Regions from separate parts of the Homo sapiens genome. Here region 1 is linked to region 2. Evidence: fine-mapped expression QTL. A gene starts in region 2. The other region holds a variant in brackets. All regions are shown on one strand. Distances are between the middles of the regions.

Region 1 (8,332 bases), 160 kb after region 2:
AGTGGCGCCGGGCACTGTGCCTGCAGTGCGGCACGGAGAAGCTGAGCATGCAGCCTCTGCTTCTCTTTTTTAAAATCCCAAGAGGAGAATCTAATCAAGTCCATCCCTGGTCCTCTAGGCCATGGTGGGGGCTCAGCAAGGGTTGAGGACCCAAGAGATGCTCTGAGAAGAAAATGGGGGAGAGCCAGCACCCCCAAGGCAAGTTAAATCCCAATTATATTAGTTTCTGTAACAAATTACCACTAACTTAGTGGCTTTCAACAACACTAATGTATTCCTTTCCACTTTTGGGGGTTAGATTCCTAAAGTCAGTCTAACAGGGTAAAAATCAAGGGCTAAAAAGAAAAAATATAAATTAAGATCCCAGCTGGGCGCAGTGACTCACGCCTGTAATCCCAGCACTTTGGGAGGCCAAGGCAGGTGGATAACTCGAGGTCAGGAGTTTGAGACCAGCTTGCCCAACATGGCAAAACCCCGTCTTTACTAAAAATACAAAAATTAGCCAGGCACAGTGGTGGGCGCCTATAATCCCAGCTACTCGGGAGGCTGAGGTGGGAGAATCATTTGAACCCATGAGGCGGGGATTGCAGTGAGCCAAGATCACGCCATTGCAAACTCCAGCCTGAGCAACAGAGAGAGACTCGGTCTCAAAAAAAAAAAAAAAAAAAAAAAAAGAAGATCCCAGCACAAATCACTCAGGCAATCATTGTTGAAACTTTTGAGTGTCTTCTAGATATCTCTTTATGTCCACACCTAGACACACAAACAGATATACTGATGTTACAAACGTGGCCACACTACAGGCTGCAGGCTGTTTTGTAACTTGCTATTTTTACTCAATAATATGTTATTAATTCTTTCTATGACAGTAAAGATATCTGTGATAAAGATAGATCTATGATACACAATCATTTTCAGTGGCTAAAGAGTATCCTAGTGATTGAATATATGAAACTGCCCATTTTGGCAGGTCATGGTGCCTCACGCCTGTAATCCCAGCACTTTGGGAGGCCAAGGCGGGCAGATCACTTGAGGCCAGGAGTTCAAGACCAGGCTGGCCAACATGGCGGAAACCCTGTCTCTACTAAAAATGCAAAAATTATCCAGTTGTGGTGGTGCATGCTTGTAATCCCAGCTACTTGGGAGGCTGAGGCAGGAGAATCACTTGAACCTGGAAGGCGGAGGTTGCAGTGAGCCGAGATCATGCCACTGCACTGCACTTCAGCCTGGGCAACAGAGTGAGACTCTCTCTCCAAAAAAAAGAAAAGAAAGAAAGAACTGCCCATTTTGTAGGCCATAGCTATAGAATACAGGCAGTTCCATATGGCTCAAGCTAAGAGGTACATTGTGATAATTTGCCAGTCAGTCTCTGGGATAGATATTTAACTGTAACTTTTGTTCAATTTTCCCAATTATAAACAATTTTTGGTAACCCTAATATGTCCTTACCATGTGCCAACCACTCTTCTAAGTCTATTTTGCTGACATATATTAACTTTTGCAATTCTTACTCCCCCCCACCAAAAAAATGAAAACAAAAACCAACTCTATAAGGAAGGTGCTAGTATTACCTCCACCTAATAGCCGAACAAACTGTGGTATGAATGAAGCGAGAAGCTTGTCCAAGGTCACATGGTAAACAGCAGCGCCAGCTCTGAACGCAGCCATCTGGCTCCACAGCCTCAGCTCTCTTAAATGCTATGGTAAATGGAATTATTTTTCCAATTTCCTTTTCAAATGTTCCTTGCTGGTGTAAAAAAAAATGCACACACACAATTAATTTTTGTGTGTTGATCTTGTTCCTTGCGACTTTACTGAATTGGTTAATTAGCTCTATCTAATAGTTTTCTTGTGAATTCTTCGGGATTCTCCATATATGGGATTGTGCCATCTGTGATTAAAGATAGTTTTACTTCATTCTTTGCCATCTGGATGCCTTTTATTGCTTTTCTTGTCTAATTGCTCTGGCTAGAACTTCCAGTACAATGTTGAACAGCAGCGGTGAAAGCGGGCATCCTCGTCCTGTTCCTGATCTCAGGAAGAATGCACTCAGGCTATGCTCCTAACAACTGTGCTCACTGTCTGTCCACCCCACATTCATGTTGCCAGAAATCCCTGCACAAGCTTCTTCACACACCTAAGGCATTAAGTCTATACAGGACTTCTGGGTCAAAGGGTGTGCACATTTTCTATCTGAGTTTATTTTCCTAAATCATAAATGCTTGAACCATTTCATGCTTCCATCACCAAAGCAAGAGTGTGTACACTGCCTCTTAAGAGGGGCTTGACAAACAAGCGGTGTGAACTTGGTTGAGACAGTTGAGGGTCTGGTCGCCAGGCTGAGAGCACATGGCCTGTAGGATGGAGGCTGTGAGTTTGAAGAAGAGGAGAGACATAGTAGCAGTGTGCAGCCATTTGAAGAGGGACACAAGGCAAAACTAAGCAAAGGTGAAAGTTACAGGGGGAAAGATTTTGGCTCATTTTCTCAGGAAGAAAAGTGACAGGGCAGTCCCAGAGCAGAACAAGCTTTCCTTGTGGTTACTGCTGGTGATGGTGAGGAAGATGATGAAGATAATTTTCATTTACCACATCAACTTCCCTTTCTCTCCTGTCCCCTTTCCATCTGCACTTAACATCATTTCTCTACTAAAAATACAAAATTAGCCAGGCATGGTGGCACATGCCTGTATTCCCAGCTACTCAGAAAGCTGAGGCAGGAGAATAGCTTGAACCCCAGAGGCGGAGGTTGCGGTGAGCCGAGATCACCCCATTACACTCCAGCCTGTGCAACAAGAGTGAAACTCTGTCTCCAAAATACCCCCTCTTCAATCCCACATTCTCTTACCACCACTCCATGCCTCTCTTCTTCATAGCCAAGTCCCCTGAAAGAGTGAGTCATCATATCCATTTCTGCATCTCCATTCACTCCTCCGCCCACTCCAGTCTGGCTCCCACCCCCATCCCTTCTCTAAAGCCTCTCTTGCCAAGTAAACAACAACGTCATTGTCACTAAATCCAATAGACACACCACATAGCTGATCTTCCTGGAACTCTCAGCACCAGTTGACACTGTGACCATGCCCCACCTCCCTCACCTCCTTCCCTTAGCTTGCAGGAATCCACCTTTGCCTGACTTTCATTGGATCTCTGTGGCTACTCCTTCTCAGAATCCTTTGGGGACTTCAGCACTCCCACCCCTTAAAGGTTAGCCCTTCTCCGGGGTCGGTTCTAGGCCCTCTTGCTTTCTCATCTACTTCTTCTCTTGCTGGTGAATTGCAGCTTCTTCCATGGTTCTAGTTCCCATCTATATGCTGGTGATATAGAAACCTACATCTCAGGCCAGGCGCAGTGGTTCATGCCTGAAATCCCAGCACTTTGGGAGGCTGAGGTGGGCGGATCACCTGAGGCCAGGAGTTCAAGACCAGCCTGCCCAACATGGTGAAACCCAATCTCTACTAAAAATACAAAATTAGCCAGGTGTGGTGGCGGGCACCTGTAATCCCAGCTACTCAGGAGGCTGAGACAGGAGAATCACTTGAGCCCGGGAGGCGGAGGATGCAGTGAGCTAAGATCGCACAACTGCCCTCATATCCCTTAGCTCATTGCAATAGAGGAAGAGTAATTCATGCAGAGCCAGCTCTGTGGGGGAGACCAGAGACTCTGACTCAAAAAAAAAAAAAAAAAAGAAACCTACATCTCAGCTCCAGATTCATATATCCAACCACCTATTCAACATCTACATGCATATGTTCCATGAACACTTCGAACTCAATGCCTTCAGTTCTGACCTCATCTTCCACCCCAAATTGGCTCTTTCTCCTGCATTTCCTATCCCAGCAAGTTATTCCAGCACCTATCAGTTGTCCAAGCCAGAAACATGGCACACTCCTTGACTCATTCTCTCCCTCTTTCCCCCTCACCCATTCAGTTGCCAAATCCTACTGTTTTACCTTTCTAATATTGCTCGAAGTCATCTACTTCTCTCCTCTGCCTCTACTACCTCCTCAGTCCAGGTCACCATCAGCTTTCCTATCTGGACAACCCAATGGTCTCCTAAATGGTCTCCTTTCCTCCAGTCTTACCCTGTCCCCTCCACTCTCTATACTGCACACTGCATACTTTTTTTTTTTTTTTTCTTGAAACGGAGTCTTACTCTGTCACCCAGGCTGGAGTGCAGCAGCAAGATCTTGGCTCACCGCAACCTCTGCTGCCTGTGTTCAAGTGATTCTCCTGCCTCAGCCTCCTGAGTAGCTGGGATTACAGGCATCTGCCCCCACGCTCAGCTAATTTTTGTAGTTTTTAGTAGAGA[T/C]GGGGTTTCACCATCTTGGCCAGGCTGGCCTTGAACTCCTGACCTCGTGATCCACCCGCCTCAGCCTCCCAAAGTGCTGGGATTACAGGTGTGAGCCACCACTCCCAGCCTACACTGCATACTTTAATGAGAGCATGGACTATGGTGTGAGATGCTTAGGTTCAATCTCAGCTCTACCACTTACTGGCTACACGACCTTGGACAAGTGACTTAACCTTTCTGAGTCATTGTTTCTTCTGTAATAAGAGGATATTAGGGCCCAGCGTGGTGGCTCATGCCTGTAACCCCAGCACTTTGGGAGGCCGAGGTGGGTGGATCATTTGAAGTCAGGAGTTCGAGACCAGTTTGGCCAACGTGGTAAGACCCCCTCTCTACTAAAACTACAAAAATTAGCTGGGCGTGGTGGCGCACGCCTGTAATCCCAGCTACTTAGGAAGCTGAGATAGGAGAATCGTTTGAACCCAGGAAGCAGAGGTTGCAGTGAGCCAAGATCGTGCCACTCCACTCCAGCCTGAGTGATTGAGTGAGACTCCATCTCCCAAAAAAGAAGATATTAGTATTGTATTCGGCAGGGTTTCCAGTTTTAAACAACAGAATTTACTCTGCTGAATTTAAGAAGAAAGATTGTCCAGGAAAGACAAATCTATAGAGGCATAGAGTAGATTCATGGTTGCCTGGGTTGAGCAACCATGGGGAGAGAGTGGGAGTGGGGAGTGACTGTTAATGGGTATGAGGGCTCTTACTAGGCTGATGAAATGTTCTAAAACTGGATCACGGTAATGGTTGAACAACTTGGTAAATTTACTAAAAGTCATTGAAATGTGTATTTAAAATGGGTGATTTTATGATATGTAAGTTATACCTCAATAAAGTTGAGAAAAATATAGAAAAAAAGAGATTTTTTTTTTTTTTGAGACAGGGTCTCACTCTGTCGCCTAGGCTGGAGTCTAGTGGCATAAACACGACTCACTGCAGCCTCAACTTCCCAGGATCAAGCGATCCTCCCACCTCAGCCTCCCCAGTAGCTGGAACTACAGGTGTGCACCACCATGCCCAGCTAATATTTTTTTTTTTTTTTTTTTTTTTTTTTTAGAGATGGGATCTCAATTTGTTGCTCAGCTGTTCTCAACTGGTCTCAAACTCCTGGGCTCAAGCAATCCTCCCATCTCAGCCTCCCAAAGTGCTGGGATTATAGGGGTGAACCCCTGCAGCGGGCTGAATAAAGAGATTTTTTTTTTAGAGTCTCGCTTGGCTGCCCAGGCTGGAGTGCAGTGGTATGTCTCAGCTCACTGCAACCTCCGCCTCCCAGGTTCAAGTGATTCTCCTGCCTCAGGCGCCTGAGTAGCTGGGATTACATGCACCTGCCACCACGCCCAGCTAATTTTTGTATTTTTAGTAGACACAGGGTTTCACCATGTTGGCCAGGCTGGTCTTGAACTCCTGACCTCAAGTGATCCGCCCGCCTCAGCCTCCCAAAGTGCTGGGGTTACAGGCATGAGCCACCACACCCAGCCCCCCTTTTTTAATTTAATTTTTAAAATTGTCTCAATATTTTTATTTATTTTTTATTGTTTTGAGACGAAGTTTTGCTCTCATCACCCAGGGTGGGGTGCAGTGGTGCAATCTCAGCTCACTGCAACTGCTGCCTCCCGGGGTCAAGCGATTTTCCTGCCTCAGCCTCCGAGTAGCTGGGATTACAGGTGCCTACCACTACGCCTGGCTAATTTTTGTATTTTTTTTTTTTAGTAGAGATGGGGTTTCACCATGTTGGTCAGGCTGGTCTCAAACTCTGGACCTCAAGTGATCCACCTGCCTTGGCCTCCCGAAGTGCTGGGATTACAGGTATAAGCCACCACGCCTGGTGAGGGATTTTTATTTTTATTTATTTATTTATTTATTTATTTATTTATTTATTTATTGAGACCGAGTTTTGCTCTTGTTGCCCAGGCTGGAGTGCAATGGTGTGATCTCAGCTCACTGCAATGCCCGCCTCCCAGGTTCAAGCGATTCTCCAGCCTCAGGCTCCCAAGTATTAGCCAGGCATGATGACGGGTGCCTATAATTCCAGCTACTTGGGAGGCTGAGACAGGAGAATTGCCTGAACCCAGGAGGCAGAGGTTGCTGTGAGCCAAGATCACGCCACTGCAGTCCAGCCTGGGCAACATAGCAAGACTCTGTCTCAAAACAAACAAACAAACGAACAAACAAACAAACAAACCAATGAGCTTGGAAGTGACTTTTCCCCAGAGTCTCCAGACAAGAACTCAGCCCGCTGATGCCTTGATTTAGGCCTGTGGGACTGTGTTAGTTTCCACCGCTGTGTAACAAATAGAAACTCATACAGCCTCAGACAATCCTCATTCCATAGGGGAGCTAGCAGTCTGCAGAGGAACAGAGTGGGGCCCTTTAAGGCATGGGGTCCAGGGAAAGGGATCCCCTATTGTATGGGTCAAAGGGCAATACTTCCCTCTATTCCTGAATTTGAATTCTGCTCATACCCAGCATCCCATGTGATTCCTTGTATATGGAAGTGTTGCCTGGGGCATATTTTTGGAAAGCTTGGGTCTCATACTGTGTCCTAGCTGCAAGGGAACCTGGGACATTCAGTTGTGACATGTATTAGGGAGTGGAACTCATAATACAGAGAGTTCCCCAAACATGTGGCCGTTCAGGTCATGATCAACCACTCCGACAACCAATATTATAGGATTATGTAGGAGGATCAAATAGGCCAATACATGTCACATGCTAAGAATGGAACCCAGCACATGCTAAGACCTCAGCAGCACTCAGTAGCTGTTATGTTTCAAGCAAAATAATGTCTTTAAAATGAAAATAGCGTAAAACCTTTCATGTTTTCTGTATGTTTGAATATTTTCTACTAAGATGCTGGGGTTTGGGGGGACAGCTCTCCATGCTTTCTCAGTGCCCCCCAGATGCAGCTCAAGGTGCTCCACGATCTCACCCCTGCTAGCTTCCCCAGCCCCACCTTGGCCTCGCCTTCTCGGCCACTGTACACGCCAGTTGCAGGCCTGTGAAGAAGCCAGACAAATTGCTCCTTCCTCTTCTCAACACTGTGCTACCCAAGCAGGAGGGCTGAGAGGCTCCAGTGCAGGGTGGGAGGCTGGGCTGGGGCGGTATCCCCAGTGGCCTGTGGGTGCAGGAGAGAAGCCTCCATCCTTGCCCCTCAAAACAAGAAAACCAGATACCAAGGCAGCTTTTCATAAGGCTATAGCCATTCATTTGAAAAAACCATGCTTATCTTTTGAGATAATGTGCTTTCAGCTATTTGGGTGTTTTGGTGTTAGACATGAACAAAGGGATGAAGATAGATGGTAGTAGGCGGTGTTTAATTGCTTGCCTGAGATCCTTTATTTATTTATTATTATTTTTATTATATATGTATACATATATGTGTGTGTGTGTATATGTGCATATATATATATACACATTTTTTTTTTTTGAGACTGAGTCTCGCTGTATCACCCAGGCTGGAGTGCAGTGGTGCAATCTCGGCTCGCTGCAACCTCCGCCTCCTGGATTCAAGCAATTTTTGTGCCTCAGCCTCCCGAGTAGCTGGGATTACAGGCACCTGCCACCACGCCCAGCTAATTTTTGTATTTTTAGTAGAGACGGGGTTTTGCGACATTGGCCAGGCTGGTCTCGAACTCTTGACCTCAGGTGATCTGCCCGCCTTGGCCTCTCAAAGTGCGGGATTACTGGAGTGAGCCACCGTGCCCACTCCTTGATCTCTCCTCAAGTTGGTAAAAGGCATCATCAATCCCTCAGGAATCCGGAGCCATCCTTCACCTCCTAGCAAATCCATCAGTTCTGCCTCCAAAACACATCCCAGCTTTGTCCACATCTCTCTGGCTCCACCATCCCATTCCAGCCCAAGTCTCCATCCCTTGCATCTGGTGACTCCAGCAACCTTCTCACTGGTCCCTCACCGTCATTCTGGTCCCACCACACTCTATGCTCTGCACAGTGGCCCATGAGAGCTTCTAGAAACATGAGTCAGAT
Region 2 (8,310 bases):
AGGGAGGCTTAAATGAGATAATATATCTCAAAGCACCTGGCACATAGCAGGTGTTCAAGAAATGCTCGTTCCTTTTCTTCTTTTTGCTTTCTCTTAACACCATAGATTCCTTTTTCCTTTGGAGGAGAAGAAAGTACTCAAAATAGGGGATCCATTCACTTTTTCATTCTCAACACAAATATTGATTGAGGCCGGGCATGGTGGTTCATGCCTGTAATCCCAGCGCTTTGGGAGGTTGATGCCTGAGGTCAGGAGTTCAAGACCAGCCTGGGCAACATGGCAAAACCCCAACTCTACTGAAAAAAAATACAAAAATTAGCCGGACGTGGTGGCGGGCACCTGTAATCCCAGCTACTTAAGAGGCTGAGGCAAGAGAATTGCTTGAACCTGGGAGGCAGAGGCTGCAGTGAGCCAAGTTCGCACCACTGCACTCCATCAGCCTGGGTGATAGAGTGAGACTCTGTCTCAAATATATATATAGATAGATATAGATATATAGATAGATAGATAGAGTGCTTACCACATACAAGGCATGGCATGGGGAATGCAGCAAGGAACACGATGATCCCTGCTCTTGTGTTGCAGCAAGAGGGCTTAGGCACTGGGATCAGGCAGAACTGGTTTCAAATCATGGCTCAACCACCTATCAGCTGCGGCTCCTCAGGCAAGCCATGCCACCTTTTCGAGGCTTAGTTTAGGCAATTCTAACATGGGGGCAATAAGATATCTCATAGAATGCCCAAGAGGAGCAAAGGAAAAGGCACTTGTAAAGTTGCTTAATAGCGACAGCCAGCAGCTGTGTAATCAAGAGGTTCAGAGTTGAACTGTGGGGGCCGGTGAGGATGTCTGGCCAGCAAAAGAGAATGGAGGCTGTAATCTGGGGACTTCAGGCTTCCAGGATCAGGCCACTTAGGAATGGTTGCCCTCCGGCATGCTGGTCGAGCCCTAAGCCCTAAAGTTCTGCTAGTGGAGCTTATCTGGTCATTATACAGATGAGGAAACTGAGGCCCAGAGAGTGGAAAGGCCTTGCCCAAGAGGCACAAAATCAGGATCAGGTCTCCCTTACCTTGCCCCAACTCACATATTTCTTTTTCTTTTCTTTTCTTTCTTTCTTTCTTTTTTTTTTTTGAGACAGGGACTCCCTCTGTTGCCCAGGCTGGAGTTCAGCGGTCAGATCTCGGCTCACTGCAACCTCTGCCACCTGGGTTCAAGTGATTCTCATGCCTCAGCCTCCCGAGCTGGGATTACAAGTGCATGCCACCACACCTGGCTAATTTTTGTATTTTTAGTAGAGACAAGGTTTCGCCACGTTGGCCAGGCTGGTATCGAACTCCTGACCTCAAATGATCCACCTGCCTCAGCCTCCCAAAATACTAGGATTACAGGCGTGAGCCACCACGCCTGGTCCAATTCATGTGTTTATGAAGTTCCTGTCGACAGACATTTATGTGTTGGTCTCCTTTGTTGGGTGGGCATCTCTGCTAAGTGACTGCAGTGGGCTGCTGCCACCCCTCTGCACTGGGGACACAACATGAAAGAGTGGCCATGAATTTGCCCAAGGGGGTAGGGATTAATGGGAGGGAAACTTGAGGACTCTTATGCACGCAGTGGGACAGACCCTGATTAAACAGGTGCCAACTAAAGGGGGATGTGAAGGAAGGCTCAAGTTTGGGCTCACCTGGGATGCACTGGATGCTCTACTCCTGGGCATGCTCCATTTATTCTCACACGGGCAACCCTAGAAAGCTGCACTATTTTTTGTTTTGCTTTGTTTTTTGAGACAGAGTCTTGCTCTGTTGCCCAGGCTAGAGTGCAGTGGCATGATCTTGGCTCACTGCAACCCCCGTCTCCTCGGTTGAGGCGATTCTCCTGCCTCGGCCTCCCGAGTAGCTGGGACTACAGGTGCCTGCCACCACGCCCAGCTAATTTTTATATTTTTAGTAGAGACGGGGGTTTCACCATGTGGCCAGGCTGGTCTGAAGCTCCTGACCTCAAGAGATCCGCCAGCCTTGGCCTCCCAAAGTGCTGGGATTACAGGCATGAGCCACCAGGCCCGGCCTGAAAGTTGCTCTATTTTTACTCTCATTCCATGGACTAGGAAGCTGAGGCACAGACAGATGAAGTGACCTGCCCAAGACTACACCAGCATGGTATAGCTTGAAACCTGGGCGTTCTGACTGTAGAGACCATGTTTTGAGACAGGGTCTCACTCTGTCACTCAGGCTGGAGTGCAATGGTGTGATCACGGCTCACTGCAGCCTCCTTGTCCTGAGCTCAAGTGATCCTCCCACCTCAGCCTCCCAAGTTGCTAGGACTATAGGTGTGCACCACCACAGCCTGCTAATTTTATTTATTTATTTATGTATTCATTTATTTATTTAATTTGGAGGTGGAGTCTCACTTTGTCACCCAGGCTGGAGTGCAGCAGCGCAATCTTGGCTCACTGCAACCTCTGCCTCCCAGGTTCAAGCGATTCTCCTGCCTCAGCCTCCCGAGTAGCTGGGAGTATAAGCATCTGCCATCATGCCCGGCTAATTTTTGTATTTTTAGCAGAGACGGGGTTTCATCATGTTGGCCAGGCTGGTCTTCAACTCCTGACCTCAGGTAATCCACCCTCCTGGGCCTCCCAAAGTGCTGGGATTACAGGCGTAAGCCACTGAACCCAGCTGAGGCCATGATGCTGCATCCAGGAAAAACAGAGATGAATAAAGAATGGAGAAATGAAGGGAAGAAGAAATGAAAGAATGGGAAAATGAAAGAAAAGAGAACAAACAAGTATTTTTCTTCATTTTCTTTTTAATGGAATAGTTGGCATGTAATACTTGTAGCACACGAGTTATAAAACATACTAATAGAATGAACACTTTTGAACTCACCACCAATATAAGACTATAATAGAAAGTTATCGGCCGGGTGCAGTGGCTCACTCCTGTAATCCTAGCACTTTGGGAGCCTGAGGCAGGCGCATCACGAGGTCAGGAGATCGAGACCATCCTGACCAATATGGTGAAACCCCATCTCTACTAAAATACAAAAAATTAGCTGGGCGTGGTGGCGTGCGCCTGTAGTCTCAGCTACTCGGTAGGCTGAGGCAGGGTAATCGCTTGAACCCGTAAGGCGGAGGTTGCAGTGAATCGAGATCACGCCACTGCACTCCAGCCTGGCGACAGAGCAAGACTCTGTCTCAAAAAAATAAAAAAGTTACCAATAACTTCCATCTACTTATGCCAGCAGGCCTCTGCCCAAGTTGTACATTGAACACACCTGGGGAATTTTGGAAAACACTGATACTCTCAGATGGGATTTGGGGTTTGGTTTGGGCATCTGGATTTTTTAAAGGTATCTGGATTTTTTCTTCTTTTTTTTGAGACAGTGTCTGGCTCTGTCACCCAGGCTGGAGTGCAGTGGCACAGTCATGGCTCACGGCAGCCTCGATCTCCTGGGCTCAACTGATCCTCCCGCCTCAGTCTCCCGAGTAGCTGGGACCACAAGTCCCACCATGCCCGGTTAAGTTTAAAAAATTTTTTAGAGACAGGAGTCCCTCTGTGTTGCCCAGGCTGGTATCTGGTGATTCTCACGCGCAGCCAGGTTTGAGGACCACTGACTTACATTCTCTTCCCCCTGGTTTCCACCTTCACCTTCACGTGATGGTAACCACCATCCTGAAATACGTGTAGTGCATGGACGGATTCTTTGCCTCCATGCTTCCCTATTTCAAGGAGCAGCGACGTTTGCTATTTATCTCCCGCTGGCCACGACGGGGCACCAGAGAAAAACACAGGCTCCCTACGCGCTGAAGGAGGCTTGGCCCTTGCGACGCTCCGTCGTCGGGCTCGTTGCCGGTGCAAACAGGGAGGAAACAGCCGGCGTTGCTGTAGCGCGTCTGGGAATTACACCGGGGGACTGGCCGGCCCGCTTCGTGCCTGCGGGAAGTCGGGCCGGGGGACTCTTCGGAAACTCCGAGCCTCAGAGAAATGTGAGTCGGAGGGTTGGACTAGGCCGGATCCGGCGTTAGGGCGGGGGCCCGCAGGCGGCCCGCGCGGGCGGGAACCGGGGCGGCAGTCAGCGGGCGCGAGCTCAGGGCGCCTCCGGGGTCCTCACTGCGCTCCCCACGCGCTGTGACCCCATTTGTTGCACGTGCATGTTCAGGTCGAGAGAGGGATGCGACGTGTTCGGGGAGCAGCCCACCTTGTGGGTGGCCAATCCGGGACGGGAATCTTAAACTTTTAACTCTTGGTGCAAAGACTGATCCACTGGCGGCTTTACGGGAGCGGGAAAAAAGTATGTGAAGCTTGCCACGGTCTCGAGACCGAGGTCACACGTTAGCAGCCTGCCGGCTACATTTGGACCATAGACGCAGAGTGTTTGCCCCCAAAACTGGAGGACCTCCAGAATGAGATTCTTGGCGTGCACCAGGCCTTTTCGCTCATTCAGCCGGCGTTCCTACCCAGGCACTGCATCGACCCTACACTTGAGGACAGCTTTTGGGTCAGGGGAATTGGTGCCTGGAGTGAGACTGCTCTCTGCTTTCAAGGCTCCAGCTGTATCCCTACATTGCTCAGGCAATTCCTCTCTCTAGGTCTCAGCTTCTTCATCTGCAAGATGAAAGGTCTGTCCTCCATGGTAGCCCAACATACTTCCGAGTGTTATTATCAGTCCCCTCCCCGGGGACTGCCAGAGCCAGGGCAGGTTGGTCCCAACAGGCAGCCCCTTGCAGCAGAGAGAGCCTGGGCTCTGGTCTCAGACGGACATGAATTAGGAACCCAGCTTGTTTATCTCCTTTACTTCCTGGCTCTGTGATCCTGAGCAAATCACTTTGTAATGCTTAACGTTGTTTTTACTAACCTTGTTTTTTAATGCCTTACCTTGTTTTTACTAACCTTGCTTTTAGACTCTTTTTTTCCCCTTAATCACCTAGCCTTGTTTCCACATGAATTAGCTCTCCCTTAGTTGAGAAAGCCGGATGAACTCCATCTGGTTCCCTCATTTACAAGACATCAAGGACTCCTTACCCACCCCTTTCCTCAAGGAGTTAACTTGTGTAAGCAGAATCTCAACATATCAAAGAGTCCAATTAACTGATAAGGTACTGAAACAAGCAATGTACGAAGTTCCCAGGATTTTGCTCAAAAGATAACACCATAAAACCTTGAGTTGGTGTCGGGCAGAGCACCCATATCTAACATTTTATGAAAGATTTAGAGCCCCTGCACCTGGAACTGTTGTTTCTCTGTAACCATTTGTCTTTTAATTGTTTCTCTGTGACTCTTTGTCCTTTTAATTTTTGCATGTTTTTACTTATGTAGAATTGTTGCATCTGAGCTCCCCTCCCCTTCCTAAACCAAAGTATAAAGGAAAATCAAGCCCCTTCCTCGGGCCAAGAGAATTTATTAGCCGTCTCTTGGGCACTGGCTAAATAAAGGACTCTTAATTTCGTCTCAAACTGTGGCGTTTCTCTAACTCGCTCGGGTACAACAACTTTACCTCTTCAACGTAAGTTTCCTTACCTGCCAAATAGCGAGGTGATTGTAAGAATGAAAAAAAGTCATATGTATTGAGTGCTTGGCACATACATGTGTTCCTTACATTATTGTCTCTGTTTAAGCACAGCATAAATGCCCCCGATGTGCCTAGTCTAGCAATCTTAGGACAATCCCTGTGTCTGTCTGTTGTGTTCCTGGTGATGGCTGGCCCACAGCTGGGTGCACGCAGTCCAGAATTTTTTATGTTTTTGTTTTTTTGAGACAGAGTCTCACTGTCACCCAGGCTGAGTGCAGTGGCGCTATCATGGCTCGCTACAGCCGTGACCTCCTGGGCTCAAGCAATCCTCCTGCCTCAGCCTCCTGAGTAGCTGGGACTACAGGCGCACCACCACTCCTGGCTAATTTTTGATTTTTTATAGAGATGAGTCTCATGATGTGGCTGGTCTCCAACTCCCGGCCTCAAGTGATCCTCCTGCCTCAGCCACCCAAAGTGTTGGGATTACAGGCATGAGCCACTGTGTCTGGCTAAGGTTTATTTGTTTTGTTTTGTTGTGTTTTGAGATGGAGTCTTGCACTGTCGCCTAGGCTGGAGTGCAGTGGGACAATCTTGGTTCACTGCAACCTCCACCTCCTGGGTTCAAGTGACTCTCCTGCCTCAGCCTCCCAAGGAGCTGGGATTACAGACGCCCACCAGCACGCCTGGCTAATTTTTTGTATTTTTAGTGGAGACAGGGGTTTCACTATGTTGGCGCAGCTGGTCTCGAACTCCTGACCTCGTGATCTGCCCACCTTGGCCTCCCAAAGTGCTGGGATTACAGGCGTGAGCCACGGCAAATTTAAAAGGATGATTTGCAGCACTAGTGGCAGATCATTTTAAAAAATGCTGGTGCCTGGGCCCTACTAAGTTTTTTGATTGAATTAGTTTGGAGTGGGGCTCAGACACGGTTTTGTTTGTTTGTTTGTTTTAAAGTTCCACCAGTTGATTTCACTGTGCAGCCAAGGGGTGGTGACCACTCGTTAAAGGGATGAGGCCAAGCTGGTGAGGGTTCCTGGGATTTGCAGTGGCTCACTTTCCTCCCATTCCTGTTCTCAGATGGCGCTCCCGACGCTGCCGTCCTACTGGTGCAGCCAGCAGCGCCTGAATCAGCAGCTAGCACGACAGCGAGAGCAGGAGGCCCGGCTTCGGCAGCAGTGGGAGCAGAACAGCCGTTACTTCAGGATGTCTGACATCTGCAGCTCCAAACAGGCAGAATGGAGCTCTAAAACCTCCTACCAGCGGAGGTAATTGTGCGGTAACTGCCGATTGGATGGAAGTGGGGACCACTTGCTGGTCAGGGGATGAGGCCTTAAGGATTTAGGGAGCGTAGGATTTGCCAGGCAGTATGAATTACCTGCATGGTGATGTTTTTCCAGCTGGAAATGGAAAAAAAGATCATCAGTGCAGCCATACATTGGCATTGAAAAAGATAAAATGATGCAGAAGCATATGATAGAATTTGGAAGCCTGGTTGTAACCCCATATCCCCAGAGACAGCCACAGTTAACAGTCTGGCACATATCCTTCCATGCTGTTTCCCACTGGTATTTGTGCTTAAATATACACACACAAAGCTACTTTTATAGAAATACGTGTAAAAACATGGAGGCCAAAAGCATAGGCTTTGAAGTCAGACCTAGATGGAAATCCTGACCGTGTCTCTTGCTGAATGTATGAGCTTTGGTTTCCTCATCAATCAAGTGGGGCTACAGCAGACCTATGCTGTAGGATTTATGTGATGGATAATATATACATTATTTATACATTTATACATTTTCTTTTTGCAAAAAACAAGATTTTCTCTTACACATACTATTCTGTGACCTGCTGTCTCTGCTTTGGCTGGGGACACATTCCTGTGTCGTCATGACACATCTACCTCAGCCTCTTTTACCGACACAGCAGAGCAGAGCACGTTCCCTGTGGCTGTAGCATGATTGATTCAGGCAGGCCCCCTCTCACCCAGCATGCATGCCTATCAGCGGGAGAAGATGAAGGAGGAGAAGAGGAGGAGTCTGGAGGCCCGACGGGAAAAGCTCAGGCAGCTCATGCAGGAGGAGCAGGACCTGCTGGCCAGAGAACTGGAGGAGCTGAGGCTGAGCATGAACTTGCAGGAAAGAAGAATCCGGGAGCAGCACGGGAAGCTGAAATCAGCCAAAGAAGAGCAGAGGAAACTGGTAACTCCCCAGAGGGCTTCAGGAGGCTGTGGAGCAGGAGTGTTCCCAGCCTGAGTGTGTCGCACATGTAGGGTCATTCCTGGGTGCTCAGGTCTGATGAGATGCCAGTTAACTCCAGAGCCAGCAGGAAAAGAGCTTAGGTCCTTGTGCAGGGACTGGGTTTTGGATCAGTTAGCTGTAGTCTCTTTAGCCCCTTCAATCATTACATCTGAGTGCTTTTCCTTTCTTCCAGTTCTGTGGGTCCACAGAGATCTGGGACTAGTCTGTTTTACCTTCCAAAGTAGTTATGTGAAACAGTGAGCCCTAATCTGTGCTTTTCAGCCTGCTGTATTATTTTGAGACCCCCTAGATAGGACCTCTGTGTAGCATCAGATTTTGGCCCCCTTTTGTCATCATTGCAAGAGTCACTTGGTAGTGCCATGTGGTTCTCAGAGCTGTGCATGTGAAGCATGAGGGTTTGAACAGTGGTTGCAGTGACGGTGTGAAGGGAGGCACTCATAGCCTGAGCTGACTTCCACTGTGTGTCATCCAAAATGTGAATGGATTTGAAAAATGACATCAGGCTTTCCATTTTGTGTTTTCTTGATAGATTGCTGAACAACTTTTGTACGAA

What was found.
Region 1: its variant is fine-mapped to the expression of TCHP in left ventricle (GTEx, PIP 0.93).

What each region holds. Positions count from the first base shown.
Region 1 is chr12:110,057,417-110,065,748 of GRCh38, forward strand. It overlaps a transcript of C12orf76 not described here. Among named protein-coding and RNA genes, the nearest start is that of C12orf76, 13 kb to the left of the region's middle. The variant T/C (reference allele first, on the strand shown) is at 4,310.
Region 2 is chr12:109,896,451-109,904,760 of GRCh38, forward strand. It overlaps TCHP (trichoplein keratin filament binding), which reads left to right and starts at 3,824. Exons shown (of 13, transcript NM_001143852.2): 1 at 3,824-3,976; 2 at 6,577-6,764; 3 at 7,487-7,697; 4 at 8,287-8,310. The coding sequence starts at 6,577. RefSeq lists enhancers at 3,547-4,387, 4,388-5,228 and a silencer at 4,045-4,154.